2 separate regions of the Homo sapiens genome follow, and region 1 is linked to region 2. The links come from fine-mapping of genetic effects on gene expression. Tissue or cell type: lung. Region 2 holds a variant in brackets; the other region holds the start of a gene. All regions are shown on one strand. Distances are between the middles of the regions.

The links. PIP is the estimated chance that this variant, and not a neighbour inherited with it, causes the effect.
Region 1: DSP starts here. The variant in region 2 is fine-mapped to the expression of DSP in lung (GTEx, PIP above 0.99).

The regions. Positions count from the first base shown.
Region 1 is chr6:7,539,334-7,544,557 of GRCh38, reverse strand. It overlaps DSP (desmoplakin), which reads right to left and starts at 2,887. Exons shown (of 24, transcript NM_004415.4): 1 at 2,473-2,887. The coding sequence starts at 2,642. DSP-AS1 (DSP antisense RNA 1) reads left to right here and starts at 1,475. Exons shown (of 2, transcript NR_183331.1): 1 at 1,475-1,512; 2 at 3,505-4,107. RefSeq lists an enhancer at 4,899-5,224.
Region 2 is chr6:7,560,879-7,566,102 of GRCh38, reverse strand. It overlaps DSP (desmoplakin), which reads right to left. Exons shown (of 24, transcript NM_004415.4): 5 at 3,323-3,451; 6 at 2,317-2,367; 7 at 583-744. Among named protein-coding and RNA genes, the nearest start is that of DSP-AS1, 20 kb to the right of the region's middle. RefSeq lists an enhancer at 3,601-5,176. The variant A/C (reference allele first, on the strand shown) is at 3,104.

The DNA of each region.
Region 1 (5,224 bases), 22 kb after region 2:
TGAAATAAATGAGTTTAAAGTCAACCAATAGTTTTTATACTAGTTTTCATGCTAAAAAAAAAAAAAGAAAGAAAGAAAAGAAAACCACAAAAACCTTTATTTAGAAAACCTTCGGGTCAGAAAAATACTTATGAAATTCTTAATCATCATTCACTTAGCAGAGAGCAGTGGCTCCCTTGGGCACAGAGGGCACCCTGCTTCTACAAAGTGCACGCCACAGCCAAACATATCCCTCCACACAAAACCAGAATGCCACCAGAAAAACTGCGACATGCCCTGCCTTCAGGCGGTCGCTATTATTTGAAAACGCAGAAGTCAGCATTTGTGGGCTATTTTGTAGTCAGTAGCACCACTGCAGGCTGGGTCAGGCTCGAGAGGAACCTCCATTGCCAGGATCCCCGGAAAGAATGACCGCCTCCCGACTCAAGCCCTGAGCTTGACGCCCTGCTGCCGGGCAGAGCAACATTAATGAGAAGAAAAAACATCCTTCCTCAAAGTCAGGTAATTTTTCACTTGGGTCTCTTTCCCCTTCCCAGAGAGATGTGAGACTTGACAAGTTTGTAAGTAGGCTTTAAGTTGGAAAAACAGAGCACGGGATGATACTACACAAGGAAAAAACATGGAGCCTGCCCAAAATTAAATGTTTCAATGGGGAATCCTAATAAAACATGTACCTTGATGCAGTTCATTAACCACTTAATTTATTAAAGTTTTACTCCCCTACAAAAGGTATAAGAAGCCAAGGGAGTGAAATATTCGATTAATAGTACTGATTATTGTCTATTTAAAAGATAAGAAATCCAAGCTAGCAAAAGCATAGTTATAAATAATAATCAAAATAAATACTTGGTTCATGAAAACGCCAAAAAGAGCTACTAAAGAGTCCTTCGCATTCTATTCTGACTTGGATTTAAACTGTGTGTAACCCACACATTTAAAGGATGTGCATCTCAAATCCTGGAGGACTGCGGGAGAAAATTTAAATTTCAGATTTAAATGGCTGGCAAAATTTTAAAACAAATGTAATGAAAACCCAAGTTTTCATTCCTTCTATTGCTTGGCACATTTTCCCTGGAAATCCCCAGACACATTTTGTTCAGGAAACAAAGAACTCCAAGATTGAGACAATTCTTTGCTAACTCAAAAAAAAAAAAAAAAAAAAAAGCGAAAATAGATTTTCAGGATGCCCCATAAATAAATAAATGAATCTAAGCAGAAAACAGGTTGCAACTCGAGTAGTCCCTGCCTTCAAAACTGCTTGCAAAACAAAACTCCCTGGAGCGCATTCAGGTTGCTCCTCCCAGGCCTAGGGCCACAACGCCTGGTAAATAACGTCCCGGCGCTCAGGGCCTCTTTCCCAAAAGCCCGACGTGGGAACAACTAGCAGGGGGCGGGGAGGTGGGGCGGGCTGCAAAACGCGCACGGCTCACGTGGGCATCTAGAGTCCAGCTCCCGAGACCCGGTCAAAGCAGGGACAGGATCTCTTCCCCACCCACCCAAATGACGCCCTCGGTCTGTTTCCGCTGGGATCCGGAGAAGCTGACCCTCTCACCGGGGGGTCTTCCCGGGGCGCCTAGGCCAGGGCGGGCCCCCAGCGTCGTCCTCTCCCACCCCCCCACTCCCCTGCCCACACATTCTGGATCAAAGCAGACATGCGGCCGGCGCTCTGCGATCCAAGGCACACTGGGGTCTTTCATCCGGTGTTTTTAAAAAGGAGGAAACAAAAGGCTCAGAGGCAGGGCCCCAGGTGCGCTCGCCCGCGGGGGCTGCGGCGCGGACGACCGAAGGTAACAGGCACGTCCCGGCCGAACTTCGAGACCCGGGCCCGGCAGCCGCCCCGGCGGGGAAGTTTCGTTTCCCGGACAGGGGAAGCCGAAGCGCCTCCTCGGGACAGGACCCCGCGCCGCCGGGACGCGCAGCCTTGATACAAACGTCCTTGGGTGGCCGAGGAGTCCAGGAGTCGTTGCAGTCGTGGTCTCGGGGTTACTGGGGATTGGGGGTGAGCCGGTAGAGACTGCGGAGCCCCGAGCACCACTCGGCCACCAGACAGGACCGGGGCCCCGCTCCTTTCCTCTTTTACTTTGATTACGGTTGGAGAGGTTGGGTTTTGTGGTCGCAGCCCCACCTCGCCTGACCTCCCATTCGCGGGCTGGGACAAAGGCGGCTGCAGCCGTGTCCAGCAGGCAGGGGACAGCCCCGCGCGGGCCCGACGCCCCCTCTGACCACCCGCCCGGGCTCGCGGGAGGGGAGAAAGGTACGACCGAGTCCCTGTTCGCAGGACAGGGGCCAACCTGTCCCCGCACGCGTCAGGACACCCGGTCCTGCTCCCAGCGCGGCCGGGAAGTTCTTTCGGGACCTGGGGCAAAAAAACCTTTCCACCTTCGGGACCCGAGTCTCCCAGTCGTCCAGAGGAGGACGGTCCCTCCCTGTCCCGCGAGCCCCGCAGCCCGCGCTCTCCGGGCAGGTACCCACCAGTAGCCGTCCGAGTTCTGGTCGGTGATCACGCCGCGCCGAGAATAGTACATCCTGCTGGTGCCCCCGCCGCCGCTGGTCACCTCGTAGCGCAGGTCCGGGCCAGACTCGGCGCGGATCATGCGGCCCAGAGTGTTGATCCGCGGGTGGGAGCCTCCGTTGCAGCTCATGTCGGCGGGCAATCGGGAGAGCGGCTCAGCGCCGAGGCATAAGCGAGGCGGGCCGGCGCGGAGAAAGCGGAGGGGGCCAAGGATAGGCGGACGGCCGGGGAACCGGGCGGGAGTGCGGAAGGCTCGCGAGGTCGCTGCTCGCTACCTGGGCCCTCCCGAGGCCGCTGCGAGCGCGGAGACGGCGACGGGCCGGGGGCAGGAGCGGGAGGAAAGCTGTGGCTCGGAGGGCGGCAAGGGCGCAGAGGAGCTGCGTCGGAGCTGGGTGTTGGTGTTGGTCGGCGGCGGAGCGAGTCTCCTCCCCGCTGGCACTGGGCGCCTAGGCCACACCTGGCCGGTTTCTTCCCAGGGTGGGGTGCGGCCGCCGCGCCTTCCCCGCCCCCCCGCGGGTGTCACCGACGCGCTCCGGCCGCCCCTCCCCACCTGCGCCCGCCGCCCGCGACTCCGCCCTGCGCCACCGAGGCCTGAGTAACACCGGGCGGGGCGGGGGCGGGGTCCCCGAGACCCAAGCGCCCTGGGCGAAGCCACCGCGGGGAGGACCTGCGCTCGCGGGGGCTGCTGCGCTCTGCGCTGGGGCCTCTCGGGCTGGGAATGCGTGGCCCGGCTTTTGAGGATTTCCTCGGTCCCCGGGCGGAAATAGCTGGAATGGAGGGGCCTCTCGATTGGAGACTTACTGGTCAAATATTTACTTTTGTTGATCACTGGAAACGCTACCTACCACGCATTGACTAGGACCACAGTGAGGAGGGAACGCTTTAGATGATAGAGTTTTGTTTGGGGGCTTTTTTTTGTTTTGTTTTATTCCAGGAATTCAGGAAATTGCCCCAGAAGTCCGATTTCTGATGTGTAAAACCTTTTTTTACAGAAAACCACGACTTCCTGGAAAAGTCTTCACCGTAAATATTAATCTCTTTGGCATGAAGAGGAAAACACTGCAGCTAATTTTTCATGGGATAACAAAAATATAAACTGCAATTTCTTTTATTTTTTCCCTTTCGATGGTCTTTTTAAACGAGGAGTAAAGATTTCAACGCCAGGTCCATTTTCCAAATTTTGTACCAGAACCTTGAGGATGCTTGTCTCTCGCGCGCTTCTCCGCAGACCGAACCCTCTCCGGAACTCAGAGCTGTTCACCCAAGTCAGCGGAGGAGGCCTCCTGGGACTTGAGCCTGAGGGTGGCGAAGAACCCTAGGCAGAGATCATCAACTTGGTACCGATGAGTGACGCGGAGCTTGAACATTCCAGCGACTTGCTCCAGGGCCACTCCCAGTTAAGAGGCTGAGTGTTAACTGCAAGAGGCTGAGTGTTAACTACGCCGTTGGCTCCAGGAACCGAACCGGGTTTGGATACAGACCCAGTCACACCATCCATGAAAAGCTGTTTCTATAATATGAAAAATTGTTAAATGACGCTTTAGTAAAAGCCATTTAAAGATCTTTTCTAATAAATTTTTCATCTTTCCAAACAATGCCGCTAATTACCTTCTGATACAGTGCGTTTCCAAAATGTTTATGAACTGAAAACAAAAATAAAAAACTACATTTTTATGTTGTAAAGGGAGTGGGGGGGACTTTCTAAAATTTGTCGTATTATAGCACTTCTCATGACAACTTGACCCTTTAGGCATAATTTTTGACAAAATGTCTTGTTCTTTTTCTTTTTACAGCTGAACGTCTTAAATTCAAGGAGTAAACACATATAATGAGATAAAAGTTTATCACTGTTAGCACAACCAATAATTTGCATCGTAGTCTCAATTTCCTCGAATCTTTAATAAAACCAAAGTGGTCAAGTGTTTAAATGATTATACAGATTGAGTACCCCTTATCCAAAATGCTTGGGACCAGAAATATTTTGGATTCTGGATTTTCTTGGATTTTGCAATAGTTGCATAGACGTAACGAGAGATCTTTGGGGATGGAACTCAAGCCTAAACATGAAATTTATTTATGTTTTCTATATGCCTTATACACATGGCCTGAAGGTAATTTTATACAATATTTTAGATAATTTTGTGCATGAAACAAAGTTTTGACTGCACTTTGACTGCAAGTCATCACATGAGGTCAGGTGTGGAATTCGCCACTTGTGGTCATCATGTCAGTGCTCAGAAAGTTTGGATTTGGGAGCATTTTGGATTTCAGATTTTCAGATTAGGGATGCTCAACCTGTACAAACACTGATCTATAGACAAGACGGTGGTTTTTCTCAAACAGAATCAATGGCTGGAAGTCAGCCTCTGCACAAACAGCCCATAATATCCATTGGTGGAGGAGAGAAAGACATGCATGGAGGGAAAATGTCAGTGCATAATGTACAACATTTCATTTAGGATGTTTTCCCTCTATGCATCTCATTTGTTCAGCAAATAATTATAACCTAGGATATGGAAATACTCTGCAACATACAAAGATAAATAGGGTCCAGTCACTGCCCTTAAATATATTATAGTAAAACTTTGATTTAAGAAATTCAGGGGCCCGTGCGGTGGCTCATGCCTGTAATCCCAGCACTTTGGGAGGCAGAGGCGGGTGGATCACTTGAGGTCAGGAGTTCGAGACCAGCCTGGCCAACATGATGAAACC
Region 2 (5,224 bases):
CCTCCTGCAGTGCCACACACATCCTGGGTTATCTGAACGTACCAGTTCTTATCCTCTCTAAACAAACTACGGTCTTCTGGGATATTAAACAAGGTATTGCCCCTCTTTTTCTTTTTAACTTTTATTTTAAGTTCAGGGATACATGTGCAGGTTTGTTACACAGGTAAACTTGTATCACAGGGATTTGTTGTACAGGTTATTTCATCACCCACGATTAAGCCTAGTACCCATTAGTTATCTTGCCTGATCCTCTCCCTCCTTCCACCTCCACCCTCTGCCCTCCGAAAGGCCCCAGTGTGTGTTGTTGCCCTCGATGTATCCATGTATTCTCATCATTTAGTTCCCACTCCTAAGTGAGAACATGTGGTATTTGGTTTTCTGTTCCCGCATAAGTTTGCTAAGGATAATGGCCTCCACACGGAGAAGTTTTCAGGAAGGAAGGATTTTTCACGACCATTTCAAAGAAGGCTGAATTGCAAGTGGCTGATTAAATTATTAATAGACCAATCATTCCCCGAGACCCCAGCTCTTCAAGGCAACAGGCTCAAGACAAGCATCTACAGCCGCGTGGGGTGAACTTACGGAGAAGGCCTCCTGTTTCTGAGCGATGTTGGTGTTCTTGTCGCTCCAGTCGTACAGCAGCTCCTCCTCCTCGCAGTCATTGATCCACATGATCTCCCTGGACGTGGCCTGAATGATGTTCTGCAGCTGTCGCAGGTGATCCATCCTCTCAAAGGACGCTTTCTGCACAGGAGGTTCAAAGGCAGCATTAAAATAACAATATGCAGTGACTGGTGTTCTCTGCAGGTTTAAAGATTAAACCTGTGGTCCCTTTAAAAAAAAAATCACACGGATAGGAAAAATGTTAACCTTGTGCATTCACTGACCACCTGGTATGGGAAAAGACCCATCCAAATCTGCAATGAACAAGAAGGCAGCAACTTTTTTTTTTTTGAGACGGACTGTCGCTCTCGTCTCCCAGGCTGGAGTGCAGTGGCATGAGCGATCTCGGTTCACTGCAACCTCCCCCTCCCGGGTTTAAGCGATTCTCCTGCCTCAGCTTCCCGAGTAGGTGGGATTACAGACATGCACCACCACGTCCTGCTAATTTTTGTATTTTTAGTAGAGACGGGGTTTCACCAGTTGGCCAGGCTGGTCTCGAACTCCCAACCTCAGATGATCCGCCCACCTCGGCCCCCCAAAGTGCTGGAATTATGGGCGTGAGCCACCACACCTGGCCTTAAATTTTTTTTATTCTTCTAAATAAGGTCTTTTTTTGGTATTTTTTACTGATATAGTTGTACATATTTGGGGGTACACATGATATCTGGACACATGTATACAATGTATAATGATCAAATCAGGATAAGTGGGATATCCATCACCTCGAACATTTATCTTTTCTGTGTGTTGGGAACATTACAAATATTTTCTTCAAGCTATTTTGAAATATACAATAAATTATCATTAACTATAATATCCCTATTGTACTATCAAATATTAGAACTTACTCCTTCTATCTAACTGTATTTTTGTACCCATCAATAATTAGTTTTGGACTATAAGGGGGAAAATGGACTGTTAGAGAAATCAAGCTTTTCCTACCTTCTCCCCAAAAATTCAAAGTGCCATAAGTCACACCCCAGCCCAATAGGAAAATCACTGTGTCACCACGAGTGACATTATTTAAAAAGTATCATTGCCAACAAGGAAACATTAAAAAGTAAAGATATGATGACACAAATAGGCAAAAGAATGGAAATCTCTCCTCTTATGAATCAAGTAACTGATATGACTGAGTGTCATAAAATTGTGATGACGATCTGGTAGACCTCTATCTTGAGAAAAATAACTTTTATTTTTGCTTACACTTCGTAAAAAAGACCACAATTCACAAGTGGCAACGTTTTCTTGCTTCAACTGCAAGTACTTAACAAGTGCCATTTATGTGACACAACTTGAAAACAGAACAGCAGTAGGGACTGACTTCTGAAAACAACTTTTAGGCCGGGCGCAGTGGCTCACGCCTGTAATCCCAGCACTTTGGAAGGCCAAGGCGGGCGGATCACTTGAGGTCAGGAGTTTGAGACCACCCTGGTTAACATGGTGAACATGGTGAAACCCTGTCTCTACTTAAAAGAAAAAAAGAAAAGAAAACAACTTTTAAAATTCACTTCTAAAGGAAACTCAGCAGCAGCAACAACATTAGCATCGATGAACAGGTGCCTCCCCGCCAGGATGTGCTTGATATTTCTTGAACTGAATTGAATTGGAAACAACAGAAAGTCGATGCACTTGAGAAATAAATCAGCTTACCAGCAGGTTTTCATACTCCTCCTCCAACTGGTAGATCGCAGATTTCTCGCGCTAGAAGACAACAAAAAGCAGGTAGATATAAATCCCCTTGTGGATTGTATAGAAAAGAGTGGCCCTTCTAAGCCTCCTTTTCTTCAGATACTGGCCTCAGATCCCTCCATAGAAAGAAAGAATTACTAGCTCTATGAGATATTTCACCCATGGGGACTTTTTCCTAGGCGGTTGGAAAGCAAACCCTTGCTGGCCTGGCAGCACCGTCTCCACAAAGGAAAGCCCAGATCAGGGTCACTTAAAGACTCACGTGTTAGAAAATTGTCTTAAAGTTTAAAGACATCATTTAGGATTCCCTAGGTCTTAGAGAAATGAAGGAGAAAGTTGGTCAGGGGCTCAGGTGGACAAAAGTAAGCCCCAAAAAGCCAGAAGAAGAAATGAGGATGAGAAGCTATGGTCTCAGGTAAAAAAAAAAAAAAAAAGTTTAGTGATTTACAAGTGTAGAGACCTGCGGGAAACTAAGCACTTAAGATCAGTTATGATTTTATGCTGTAATTCTCAACCCAGTTTCAAGTCTGACTTTTTTCAGCATGGGAGCGGGTGTCGGGATGACATATGGCTTTGCTCAGTAGAAATAATGTTTTAATTACCACCTAGGAAAGGATTCACCAATGACACAAACTACTGTATAAGACTGTTGCATTTCCCCTATTCAAAAAGATGTTCTGCTTACCGCAGAAACAAACTGCCACCCCTAAAGAGACTTATTCACAAACTGCAAATGAGTGTTTGCACA[A/C]CCTCAGCCTCTGGTTTAACTCCTCTTCAAGTGTTAACATAATCTCTAATAGGGCTACTGATTCCACTTCCCCATTTAAGAAGTGGGATTTCTAAACATTTCCAGTCTTCTGGGAAAGAAATAATAGCAATGTTTCAGAAGAAACTCCCTGGGATTGAGTAATTACACGATCCTTCGGTAGATATTTTGAAGACTCTAAAATGAAACACAGACAAGTACCAGGTCGGCTTTGATTTTGTCCAGCTGCCAGCGATAGTCGCCGATGGAGTTGTGGATGCCCCGGTGGCTGTTAATGTGCTGCTCCACTGAGGCCAGGTCCACACCCCAGGCCACCATGTCCATCTCCGCCTGCGACACAAAGACAAAGAGAGGCGCCCTTTGTTGTTGCCCCTTTGCACCTGTTTCACTTACGCACACCATCACGGCTTTACTTCAGATAGAACCAAAGATGTAAATATGGAGTATTTTTGAAGCCAGAATATTTTTTAAAGGTTCCCAAATGGCTAATGCAGGGTTGCCAAATACTTCCCTCAACTTGCTTGACCCCAGCTCAAGATGGGCAGAGAAGGAAATTTAGAAATGGGAACCTGAAAACCAAGATCATGTCTTCTGAAAAAAAAAAAAAACCAAATCTACCTGTGCACAGGCAAGCAAGCATGTGCACAGAACATATGTGTGCATATATATGTATGATATGTTATAAAATACTCATTTAATCATTCTTAAATGTGCATAAAAAAATCATTAAATAAATGCAATCATACACTGTTCCCCAAACTAAATAGTCAACCTAAAAGCATCTTTCATTGTTTATTTCTTTATATTGTCTTGATGGATGTAATTATTGGCTTTTTAAAATCCAGGATATACCATTCCCTTTTAGGATGCAAAACTCCCTATGGGCCACTTCAAAGGGAAGTCACTATATCTACTCAAGGATTCAATTTCCATGAGTGTTGGCAATATTAGGATTGTGGACTTAAGTTACCTTTTTTAAAAAATTAAATCTGACTAAATTTATTATTTGAGCCTCAAATTTAAGAATGTTTCACAATAAGAATCACACACACTGTTCCGCCAGTTCCACACTGGGGCAAGTCCATTATCTCACCCTTCTTTTGCATGAGTACATGTAAATTTCCAAATCACCTGTGTCATCTCTTGGACATGCCAAGGGCAAACATTCCAATCTGGGATTGCAGCAAGAACATAAAACACATTGTTCTAAGCCACATCCATGTTCTAATACACTTGGCAAGGCTTCAGAAAGGGGAGCCATTTCAGAGTCAGACAACAGAAGGTTACCCGGGACTTTGACCCTTCTCTCCCACAGCTGTCTCGGCTTTAAACCAGAGACAGCCAGGTGCGTGCAGTGGGACATTAGCAACGTGACCAGGCTCCAGCTCAGGCGTCTCATTACCAGCCAGGTGTATCGTATCTGACCTGTCCATCGGCAAACACAAATCGGGAAAACAAAACAAAAACCTGGCTCAGGAGTGCCTGCCTCCTGACTGGCTGCTGGGGCAACAGTTCCCTTATCAGCTGGGCCCTGCAGCTCAGTCTCCTGGGAATGAGGTAAAGCATGCAGGGGAACAAGCGATAAGAGGAAAGGAGCCACAGCAAATCCCAGAGCGAACCTGCAGTAAGCAATCAAACAGCTTTTAGTTTGTTTGCAACCATGAGGGCTGCGTGCCTAACCCGGAAAGCATCGCTTATCAATTGCTTCTGTTAGAAAACGACATAAAACTGGCTGGGCGTGGTGGCTCACACCTGTAAACCCAATACTTTGGGAGGCCAAGGCGGGCGGATCACAAGGTCAGGAGTTCGAGATCAGCCTGACCAATATGGCAAAACCCCCGTCTCTACTAAAAATGCAAAAAATCAGCTTGCCATGGTGGCACACGCCTGTAGTCCCAGATACTCGGCAGGCTGAAGCAGGAGAATTGCTTGAACCCGGGAGATAGAGGTTGCAGTGAGACGAGATCATGCCACTGCACTCCTGCCTGGGCAACAGAGTGAGACTCCCTCTCAAAAAAAAAAAAAAGAAAATGACATAAAACTGAATTCATGTGGTAATACTTTTCCAAAATTTAAAGACATTGAGCATTTACTACATTCTTA